Linked DNA regions of Homo sapiens: region 2 is linked to region 1. The links come from fine-mapping of genetic effects on gene expression. A gene starts in region 1. The other region holds a variant in brackets. All regions are shown on one strand. Distances are between the middles of the regions.

What was found. PIP is the estimated chance that this variant, and not a neighbour inherited with it, causes the effect. A credible set is the group of variants that fine-mapping cannot tell apart.
Region 2: its variant is the best candidate, but not a certain one, in a credible set for the expression of EYA4-AS2 in transverse colon (GTEx, PIP 0.77).

The regions. Positions count from the first base shown.
Region 1 is chr6:133,454,355-133,459,748 of GRCh38, forward strand. It overlaps EYA4-AS2 (EYA4 antisense RNA 2), which reads right to left and starts at 2,251. Exons shown (of 3, transcript NR_199014.1): 1 at 2,180-2,251. It overlaps EYA4 (EYA transcriptional coactivator and phosphatase 4), which reads left to right. Exons shown (of 20, transcript NM_004100.5): 6 at 2,202-2,294.
Region 2 is chr6:133,537,629-133,543,022 of GRCh38, forward strand. All of the region lies in intron 5 of TARID (TCF21 antisense RNA inducing promoter demethylation), which reads right to left. Among named protein-coding and RNA genes, the nearest start is that of EYA4-AS2, 84 kb to the left of the region's middle. The variant T/C (reference allele first, on the strand shown) is at 2,913.

The DNA of each region.
Region 1 (5,394 bases):
GCCTTGATACCCATCTAGATTATACTCTGCATTATCTTCATACAGACAAAAGGAATTCTTGATTAGCTAGTGCTGCCTGAGAGGCAGTATGGTTTAAGAGTTTGGATTCTGAACACACACTACTTGGTCTCAAATTCTAGCTCTTACAAGCTTTGTGACTGGGGACGTTATTTAACCTTTTTGTGCCTCAGTTTCCTTATCTGAAAAATAAAGATGATGATATTATCTACTGACTGTTGAGAGGAGTAAATCAGTAGGTGTAAAGGACAAGAGAAGTGCCTGGAATGTATCAAGTTCATTTTAAGGGTGTGCTGTTACTGTTACCTAATTTCAAATTTGCTACTTCTTGATGTCTTTTAAAATATCCCATGAGGAAGAAATGGGAAACATGCCTTAGTATCCTATTCCAGTATTTTGCAGTTTTTATTTTCAGTGAAGTATTTTTAATTATTCTATCTAGGAGATAATTGCATTCTCATCATGCTTTGGGCCTTTGAGAAGAGACACTGTCATGAGCATAAGCTATTTTCGTACCTGAAGGCAGCCTGATACGGTGGAAAGATCCTGCATACTAGAGCTAAAAACCTGAGTTCAAATCTTAGCTCTACCGTCTCCTGCACTGGAACTTATGCAGGCTTTTCAGCCCCCCTGAACTTCAGTTTCCTTGTCTATAAAATGGTTATAGTGATTTGTATTAATTAGAGTTGTTTTAAGGATTAGCTAAATGTACATCATCTAGCACGTAGCAAGCTCTCAATAAGTATTAGTTTTATAGTAGTAAATATAAAGGTGATAAAATGATTTTATAATGATAGGTTTAGTTATTGATAAGGTATAACCATAATAGGGATTACTGTGCAAATTACTACTGAAAAGTAATAACCACCAATTCATTATTTATCATTATATAAATAATTAGACTACTCTTCAGATCATTGTTGCTCTTGAAAGATAAGTCAAACTTGAGTTTGCTTTTTTGCTAAGAAAAGTAATCCAAGTTTCTTTACTTTCTGTTTCCAACATTTACATTTCTCCTCTGAATCTTCCAGCTGATCATGTCATTAATAAATAATGGATACTAAATTAACCCAGAGCTCACTGAAGGTCTGGTTAATTCTGTTCATGTGGAAAAGAGCATAATCATTACCGCATGGTTTTCTATCAATTAATTTCTTTTCTAACAGAATAACATTACTGACTTGTGTGATTGGTGGGTACCCTATGACTGACTGTTCTTTTTTGTCCTTTGGCTAGTCTTCAGCTTTCTTCTTTATAATTTTCTGCTTGCTTCTAAGTTATTTAACTGTATCATTCATTTCACTTATGACCAGGAAACACAAGAGGTGTTAAGTAGAAAATAGCTTAGTTTATTTCCTTGCTGCTATGATATATGTAGTAAAGCCTTGCCAACAAAGGGAAAATATGGTGTGACCAAATGGGTAAAACTTTATTCTCACGCCCCATCACCCTTGTTGCATCTAATAATGATAATAATGTGTACTAGGCCACTTTGTTACCAAGCAAAGATTTTGCCAAAATACACCATTACCACGTAGAAATAACATATTAAAATGAGTTTTCAAAAGGTGTACTTGCTGCTGTAGAAGTCATCTCTTTTTCTACGCTTATCTCTAAACATATTAAAAATTGTTATGCCATTAAAGTATGAAGCCCAACACCTTATAGCTCGTGAGTCTTTTTTAGAGCTTCATTGAGTGCTTCATTTTTCATTCATTGTGTGAATGAGCCCATGGTTTCTATACTTTTATATGTCTCCATTGTATTATTATGCAAACTTAAAAAATATCTTCCTGGGAAAAATAAAATATAAGCTAGTAAATTTCTTTGGTATAATTTTAATTAAATGTGCTGAAGACTGATGATGATTCCTTCTTTCCTATTGACTATATGAGAGTGTGTTTAGGTGAATTAAAAATACAAATATGTGTACTGCTGTTTCACTTTTTAAGGCTGACTGCCTTTAAAAGCTGGATTTGAGAGAACTAGCTTGGCCAGAGGATTTTAGATTAAATCCTCTAAATGCATGCCCGTTTAGAAGCTAAATTAACAAACTCTCTTCATCAACTTCTCAGGTTTTCTCTTGCATGCCCATGGTAGCTAGAAATATCACTAGTAGAACGGACAGAGTCTTTGACATAAATTTAGAAGTAAAACTCACATGTACTTATTCTTCTACGTAGTGTCTCTTCTTGCAGTCAAAACAGAGCCCTTGAACAGCAGTGAAACCACAGCCACGACTGGAGATGGAGCGCTTGACACTTTTACTGGGTCAGGTAAAGCCTTTAGCTCGTGTGTCCTTACGTACACATGGGGGTGCATCCACATCCTCCTCCTCGGGAATAAGCAACATAAGCATCCAAGCTCTTAGAACTTTGATCCTTATAAAGTTAGAAACAAATTCTTATTTTTTGAGAACTCATAGTCATAGCAGTATGCATTGTTATAAATTATATTTAGAATAATTTCGCTTGATATTTTAGTTGACAGCAAAAGTCCCATGACTTTCTTATTATGGATAAGTAAACTTAACTTCCTTCAAAATTATTTTATACGATGTTTAATTAATTTAATAATTAAGTTGTAGTAGCTGACCTTGCTTCTTCAACTTACCCATTTGAATTACATAAAAACTGCCTTCTGTTTAACATTCGAGATGTAAAACTATCCATTTGATTCCTTCTAAATAACCTTGTTTCCTCTCTGGGTTTAAAAAACTCCTCCTGTGTAAGCAGCTGAGTGACAAGTATTAAAGGTTAATGGGCTGCAGGAGAGCACATGCTGGTTGCATTAGAACCCAGCCTCTGAGAGCGCTCGAATGCTTCAAAGAGAACAATAGCATGTCTTTAAACATCAATCCCTTTAAAATATAAATACCTGATAACTCCCAGCTGGGCACAAAGGGCATGAATTAAGTAGACTTAATTAAATTTTTTTAAGTTACAATATTTCTTCGGCTTTTTATCTGGTGAAAGGATTTTTCTAACCTGAGGAGGATCGGGTACATCAGAAAGAAGAACATTAAACCTAGGAAAGTATTTGTGGTAATTGAATCTCGGTTCTGTTATTCTACTTTAATACATTTTACATTTATCCATGTGCTCATGTTATAAGGATTTTTTTGTCAGTATGTTTTGTGTAAAAATAGTTGAGATATGTCTTAGAGTATTATGTCATTATAGCATATATTTGATTTTTACAGATGATCTAATTTCACTAGTTCACACCGATTAGAAGCAGTTGCCATATATTTACATAAATATTAGTACTCCAAGAAAGAAATAATAGTACATAAACTTTGCACAGAGACTCATATGTACTAATCCACATCTTTTCTAGCAGTTTACCTGCCTCTCAGGAGATAGTTACCAGTTCAGTATTCTGTATTGCACACTTACCATAGCTTTTGTAAACTTTCTGCAAAATAAATCTATATGAACAAATTGTTAAGGAAAGGAATGGAGTTATTAACTTATTGCTGACCTACTTCAGTAGTATACTACAAGTTAATTGAAAGCTGAATGACAAAACTATAAAGTGTTAGCTCCAGAAGGAATTTCAGAGCTCTCTGATCCGTTTTGTAGACAAGAGAAGTTAAAAGTGGTTAAGGCCATACAGTCAAGGCCTCACAGCTGGTCAGTGGTATAAACAAATCTAAAACCATGTCCTTATGATCAGTCCCTGGGTCCTTTCTGTAATGCCCCATCAGAAAATAGATGGAAAAAGAAATAGGCATGAACAATCATCCTGTCTGAAATTCACTCATATTGTCTTTGTAGATATTTTCGCAAATTTTTAAAGAAGTATCTAGGGACGTGCTGTCCAGTAAGGTAGCCACCAGTCATATGTGGTTATTAAAATTTGATAAAATTAAAAATTTTGTTTTTTATTTTCATTTTCACAGCAATATTGCAGTAAGTATATTTTTATTAATTGATTTTGAAAATCATCAAGTACGACTAGAGGCGTTAAGTTCTCAATATTTTCAGCAACCAAAATTTAACTGAATTTTCAAGTTTAAACACATTTCAAGTGTTTAACAGCTGCATGTGGTTAGCAGCTACCATATTGGACAGCTCAGATACAGAACATTTCCAACACTGTGGAAAGTTTTATTCCACAGCAGTGATCCAGGGCAGGGATTATCAACATCAGCACTGTTAAAGACTTGGGCTAATTCTTTAGTGTGGGAAAGCTATCCTCTGCACTGTAAGATGTTTGGCTGCATCTATCCCAGAATGCCAGCAGCACTCCCCCAGATGCTTCTTTACTAAAGAAGCAACCAAAGATGTCTTACTAAAGACAACCAAAAATGTATCCAGACTGTTTAAGTGTCCCCTGGCAGGCAAAATTCTCACCCCCACCCACTTCTCATCCCATTGAGAGTCACCAATCTAAGATGGCACGATAATGAGAATGAAACCTTAAAATTGCTTTGACACCATCAGAGAAACTGACAATAGATATTAAACATGTATTTAAATTAATTTTCAGGGCATTTTGAAAACAAGCAGTTTTGCTTACTGTTGTATGCAGAAATGATGGAATGTAATGAGTGTTTTGGGTAATGTTTATGATTAATCAGATGACAGTGGGGAATAAAACGAAATTCTTTCAAGTTTGTACAAGATATTCCAGAAACCATTCTGGAAATGAGGCTGCCCTTTGTGGGAGCAGTCTTTACTTTGATCTGCAAAATTTCCACTCACTTTAATCCAATTTTGTTGTTCTTTTCAGTTATCTGCAAATTTCTGAATTAGAACAAAATGTATATATTTTAGTAAAGAAGCATAAACTTTCCTACGTGAACATCGTAGTTTTCTGAGCCAAAGGTTTTCTGTTCTATTTAGAAAATGAACATATAGACGTTAATAGAAATTTGTAAAGGTTAGTTGAGGCTTTATAGTGTTGTGAGTACATTATTCTAATGATGTTTAGATTTATCATTAGAAGAAACATCCTATATATTCAGAATTGAGTTCATGTATATGAGTTTTTTCTGAAATGTGTAATTTTGGTCTATGTCTTATTTATAAAAGGTTACTATAATGAATATTTATCTTCATGATTCAGCGTCTCTTTGGAAAAGCCTTCTATTTCACAATATTGATAATAACTGATGAGTATAGCCCAAGTCTTGAGTGTACCAAGGAGAAATTCTGTAAAGAAGAGACGAAAGAATATTTAATCAAGCGTCATTTAACTATATTTCTGTTAGAGTATTTGGTATTGTTAATCGATAAATTAGAATGAATATCTTTGGAATAACACTACTATTATGAAGTGCACATTTAATGTCCATTGTGTAGTAGAACAAAGAGTCTGTTTTCATTAAGTTGATTTGAAAATTTAAAACGTTCTTTAAGTTTTGATAAA
Region 2 (5,394 bases), 83 kb after region 1:
AGGAATGTTAGTTCTGCAGATAAGCAGTAAAAGGACCCTAAGCTGATTATTTGACTTGATGATTGGAATTATATCCAGTCCTATATGAAGGCCCAAGAGATAACTATTCAATTAAAGCTGCTCAATTAATTTGCATTTAAGTTAAGATACATTTTGCAGATTCCTCCCTTTTAAAACACCTTTAAGCATGCATATCAACTGCTCTTAATACAACAGACTTACAGGCTCCCTAACCTACAGCATGGTTCCAAGAAGGGTACTGGACAGGCTTCTGATTAGAGTGGGGAATTAGGAAGGTTCTGGGGCCACCTAATATAGGAAAAATAAACCATGATGGAGCATTGAGTCAGCATGATTTATGATTTTAGGAGTATCTGAATGGAAGATGTTCAGAAGCAAGTTCCTAAAGGGTAAGTGGAGAAAAGCTATGTAGCCAAGTTTACCTCTTTTCTGAAATTCTATAGTGGAGATGATTTTTTTTTTTTTTTTTTTTTTGAGACGGAGTCTTGTTCTGTCACCAAACTGGAGTGCAGTGGCGCAATCTCAGCTCGCTGCAACCTCCGCCTAGTGGAGATGATTTTTTTTTTTATTATTGTGGTAAAATACAGATAAAGGTAACGATCTTAACCATTTTTAAGTGTACAGTCAATGGCATTAAGTACATCCACATTGTTGTGCTGCTGTCACCACCATCCATCCACAAAACTCTTTTCATCTTCTAAAACTAAAACTCTACCCATTGAACAATAACTTCCCATTCTCCTCTCCCCTTAGTACCTTGTAGCAACTCCTCCACTTTCTGTCTCTACGAATTTGACTACTTGAAGTACCTCATATAAACAGAATCATATAGTATTTGTCCTTTTGTGACTGGCTGATTTCATTTAACAAAATTTCTTTCAGGTTCTCCTGTTTTGTAGCCTATGTTAGAATTTTCTTCCTTTTTAAGGCTGACTAATAATATGTGTGTATACTATATTTTGTTTCTCTATTTTTCCATTGATGGGCATTTAGGTTGCCTCTACCTTTTGGCTCTTGCAAATAATGATGCTATGAACATGGGTATACAAATAACTGGGTCCCTGCTTTAAGTTCTTTTGGATATGTACCCAGAAGTGGAATTGCTGGATCTTGTGTAATTCTATGTTTAATTTTTTGAGGAACTACCATACTTGCCATACTTTCTATGGCAGCCACACCACTTTACATTTCTAACAATAGTGTGCAAAAATTCCTTTTCTTCACATCTTCACCAACACTTGTTATTTTCTGTTTGTTTTTTATAGTAACCATGCTAATGGGTGTGAGGTGATATCTTATTGTGGTTTTAATTTGCATTTACCTAATGATTATGGCATATTGGCCATTTGTATATCTTTGGAGAAATGTCAATTCAATCATTTGCCCATGTTTTAATTGGGTTGTTTTTGTTGTTGTTGTTGAATTGTATATTCTGGATATTAACTCCTCATCAGATACAAGATTTGCAGACATTTTCTCCCATTCCTTGGGTTACCATTTCCATAGTAAACTTGACTTTTGTGTGTATACAAAGCATCCCTCTTTTTAGGGAACACCATACTCCTGGGCATATGGCTGAACCCTAGCCAATCAACATATTCCACCCTCTTTGTCATATTTATTTGCCCAAGAATGGGCTCAGGACCCAAGCTAAGCCTATGAAAACTCACCCCAAGACTTTTCTCCAAAGTCATTATGAAAGATGCACTGTCTTTCTGGGATTAGGATCTCTGGTGACTATGTCAGCCTAAAATGCCAGAACCATCTTTCCTACCACATTGAGAGAGAATCTGAATATGAAGCCAACATGTGGGAAACAGCTCAGAACCCATGCCCTGTTGATGCTGTCAGAGAATTTGGTTTTAGGATGTCAGGAGACAGAACTTCAACTCAGTGACCATGCCTGGAATTTCTAGTTTTGTAAGCCCAAAACTTTTTTATTCTTTTTTCCTTGAACTTGATTGACTTTAGTTTCTGTCATCTGTGGTCAAGAGAGTATGCATGAATGTCCAGTTGGAAATGTTAATTCTTGGAACCAGCAGCTCAAAGCATGCCCTCTAGTCAGTGCTTAGGATTGATTAGAATAAAAGATGTTAAAGAAGAAAGGATGTTGGAGTCGATTACTCAAATTATAAAAAGTGAGTTTGGGACTCCTGACTGTGTTATTCCCTAGGTCTTCTGCTCTTTCCAGCTATATAGTGGCCAAGACATGTGAGACTAGGAAGAGATGGATAGTTATTTATAAGGAAAGGGGCTTCAAATGTCTCACAATAGTTTAACATTGTTACTTTAAAATATTTTCCCCTCTAAACTGTGGTGCTTTGGATGAATCCTGGCACCTCACTCTGTGTCACCCTGCGATTTGGCCACACCTCTTAAGAACACAGATATCCAGGACTAGAATTGCAGTGCTCCATCTGTTTCTTGCATTCCAGCGCCATCCCATAACCACATCAAATTATCTGTGAAATGCAATTTAGAACTCACTTAGTGAATAGGATGCCACATCCTATGACCACTCCTTAATTTTTCTTCTTTGGAAAAATGTGTGACCTATAACCCTGACCTATGACAGTTCCACCCATAGGCAAGCAATGTGTTAAATAGAAAGGGCACTGCTGAATCACGTTAAGCCTCCAACATTCTGCTTAACAGGACTAGCGTAGTAGTTAGGAGTGTATAGGTGTTCCTTTTCTCCCATTTCTAATGTAACTCCAATACACCCATACTGGCACGCATACTGAGAGCTTATTTACCATGCTTTTTGATCAACTATAACTTTTTTTTAAATAACTAAATGATAAATTCTAAAAATAAGAGTTTCTATTGCAACAACAGACAAGACCTTAGTGCTAGAAAGCACATCATCATGTCAATGGAACAACAAATCA[T/C]GAGCTTGACAGTAATGAAGCTGTTGCTGAGACATTTGTCTGTCTTTTTACAGGGCAATAATTCAAGTTTGAAGGCACGTATTTATTTAACGTTATGTCTAGGAATAAGTTGCCTTCCTAGCCTGAAATTTCTTTCTTTACCCAATGACAAAATTGTACATAATTAATGAGTGCATTCATTGTGTTTTGTTTTTTTAAAAAAATGGTCTAGCAAAATTTCCTTCTGAACATTTAGTTTAATCATGTTTATTAACTACAAACCGTGAGGTACTTGCCAACTCTGACCATAAAATGTTCTATTCTGAGGCTGTCTCTCTGTTTCTGAGGAGAATAAGAAGTCAAATGTCTTGAAAATAACCAATCCCATCCTGAGAAAACCTTCTAGTTACTTTCTCTCCTCGGATTTTGTTTTTTTAATTAAAACAAGCTAAAGTGAAATAAATAAAACAAAATGATCTGTAATGGTGGAGGCAAGTGGAATGAAAGTACATTTTCCATTCAAAACAATGTACACATGAATGTTTAAATTCATCAGCCTTTCACTGTGTAATAATGTGACATGTTTACAGTGTTGAAGGAAATCAGGTGTTTTCATGCTAAATGAAAATAAAATTTATGTACTGTTATTACCATATTCTTTGCCTGGTGTTTCTCACTCTATTCATCATTAAAGGCTGCTCAATAAATACTGTGCTAACTGCCTGTGTGGATGTTATGCAGTAATAACTCAGAATAACCATAAATAACCACCCACCAGCGCCTTGGGGAGAGTCAAGGCTTTAAGAGGGAATGCTTGCTCCCCAGTTGCTAGATGGTGTAAAAAAGATCCCTAAGTCGATTTTCTCTCCATAGTTGATACATTAGAAGCAAGGCTTAGACCCCAGTATTCCACCTTAAGACAAGGTCTTTGTCCATCATCATCTCAGGAGCTGAGGCAAGCAGTGGGCTAAATAGTGTGATTTTAGACATCTGAAGTTTTCTTCTACGCAACTGTTATCAGAAAACCTCTTGGAGGATTACTTGTCTCCTTGTGTGTTAGTTCTCTATTGCCGCATAATGAATTTCTCCAAAATGTAGCAGCTTAAAACATCAAACATATATTATCTCACATAGCGTTAGAGGGTCAGGGAGCTGGAAGCAGCTTAGCTGTACAGTTCTGGCTCAGGGTCTCTTAGAAGATTAGAATCAAGGTATCAGCCAGGACTGCAGTCACCTCAAGTCCTGATGGGCTGGAGAATTCTTTCCCAAGCTCACATAAGTGGTTGTTGGCAAGAATCAGTTCCTCCCTGGCTCTTTGCTGGAGTCTTCAGTTGCTTGCCACATAGGCCTCACCGTGAGAATAGTCACAGCATGGTAGCTTGCTTTTCACAAAAAGAGATCCAAGAGGAAGAGGTGGAGCAAGCTAGCAAGAGAGCACCCAAGATGGAAGCTGCAGTCTTTTACCCTAACCTCAGAAGTGGTGTACCTTTTGCCATATGCCATTTGTCATATAGCTCAAGCATGGTACAGTGTGGGAGGGGGCTACATGGGATGTTAATACCAGGATGCAGGGGATCGCTGGGGCTACTTTGGAGGCTGGCCGCCTCCCTCTAGGATGAAGCTGGCACTGACGCAAACAGATTGAAAAGTGAGATGAATCGGCGCAGTCAATTGGAAAGAGCACATTCAGAGTAGGATGTACCTGAGTCATCCAGGTAGCAAGAGAGCACTCTTGCTACCTTGTGGTAATTACCTCACTGAGCCTTAAACTTCCCATCCCTAACCATTACCCATCTCTTGTGGTTGGCTGTGAGAGTTAAATGAGATAATATTTAAAGAGTCTGCCTTCTGTGGAGGTTCCTCTAAAGGAAATTAACAATAAAACAAATAACAATAAAAACAAAAAAAAATGTATTTTTTTGTAAGATAGAAGAAATCCAAAAATAGCATGCCACTGTATTTGGAGGATACAGTATCCTCAGGAATGGGGAGACATGAGCGTGCTGGCAATGTTCCAGAAAGGGTAATGCTTTCATATTGTCTCTGCTCCTATTGTTTTCTACTGAAAAGTAAGGTAATGGTCCTGCTTCACTGTGTCAGCCAGGGTGCTCAGGAAGTGCGGTTGAGTCACTTCCCAAGCGTTTATTGAGCCCCGGTGTGCTGGGCACTACTAAGACTCAGCTCCTGACATCATGTTGCCCCTCATCCTGCCTGGGGGTGGAGAGTAGATGAGGGGACAGGCACAGAGACAATTCTCACCTTAGGTGGGAGTTTGAAGAAAGAAGTGTGTGTGTGCAGAGGAAGGAGGGCCTGACCATCTGGGCGAAAGAGGCAGGTCTTCAACCAGTTCTGGGCACTCAAGCAAGGGAATGCCTGCTAGAAGGGGCAGTGGCAATGTGGGCAGGGAAAGGGGTGGTGGCCTGCTCCCTGGAATTCTTCTTAGGGTTCATTGCCAGGTTAGCAAATACAAATGCAGGACATCCAGCTAAATTTGAATTTAAGG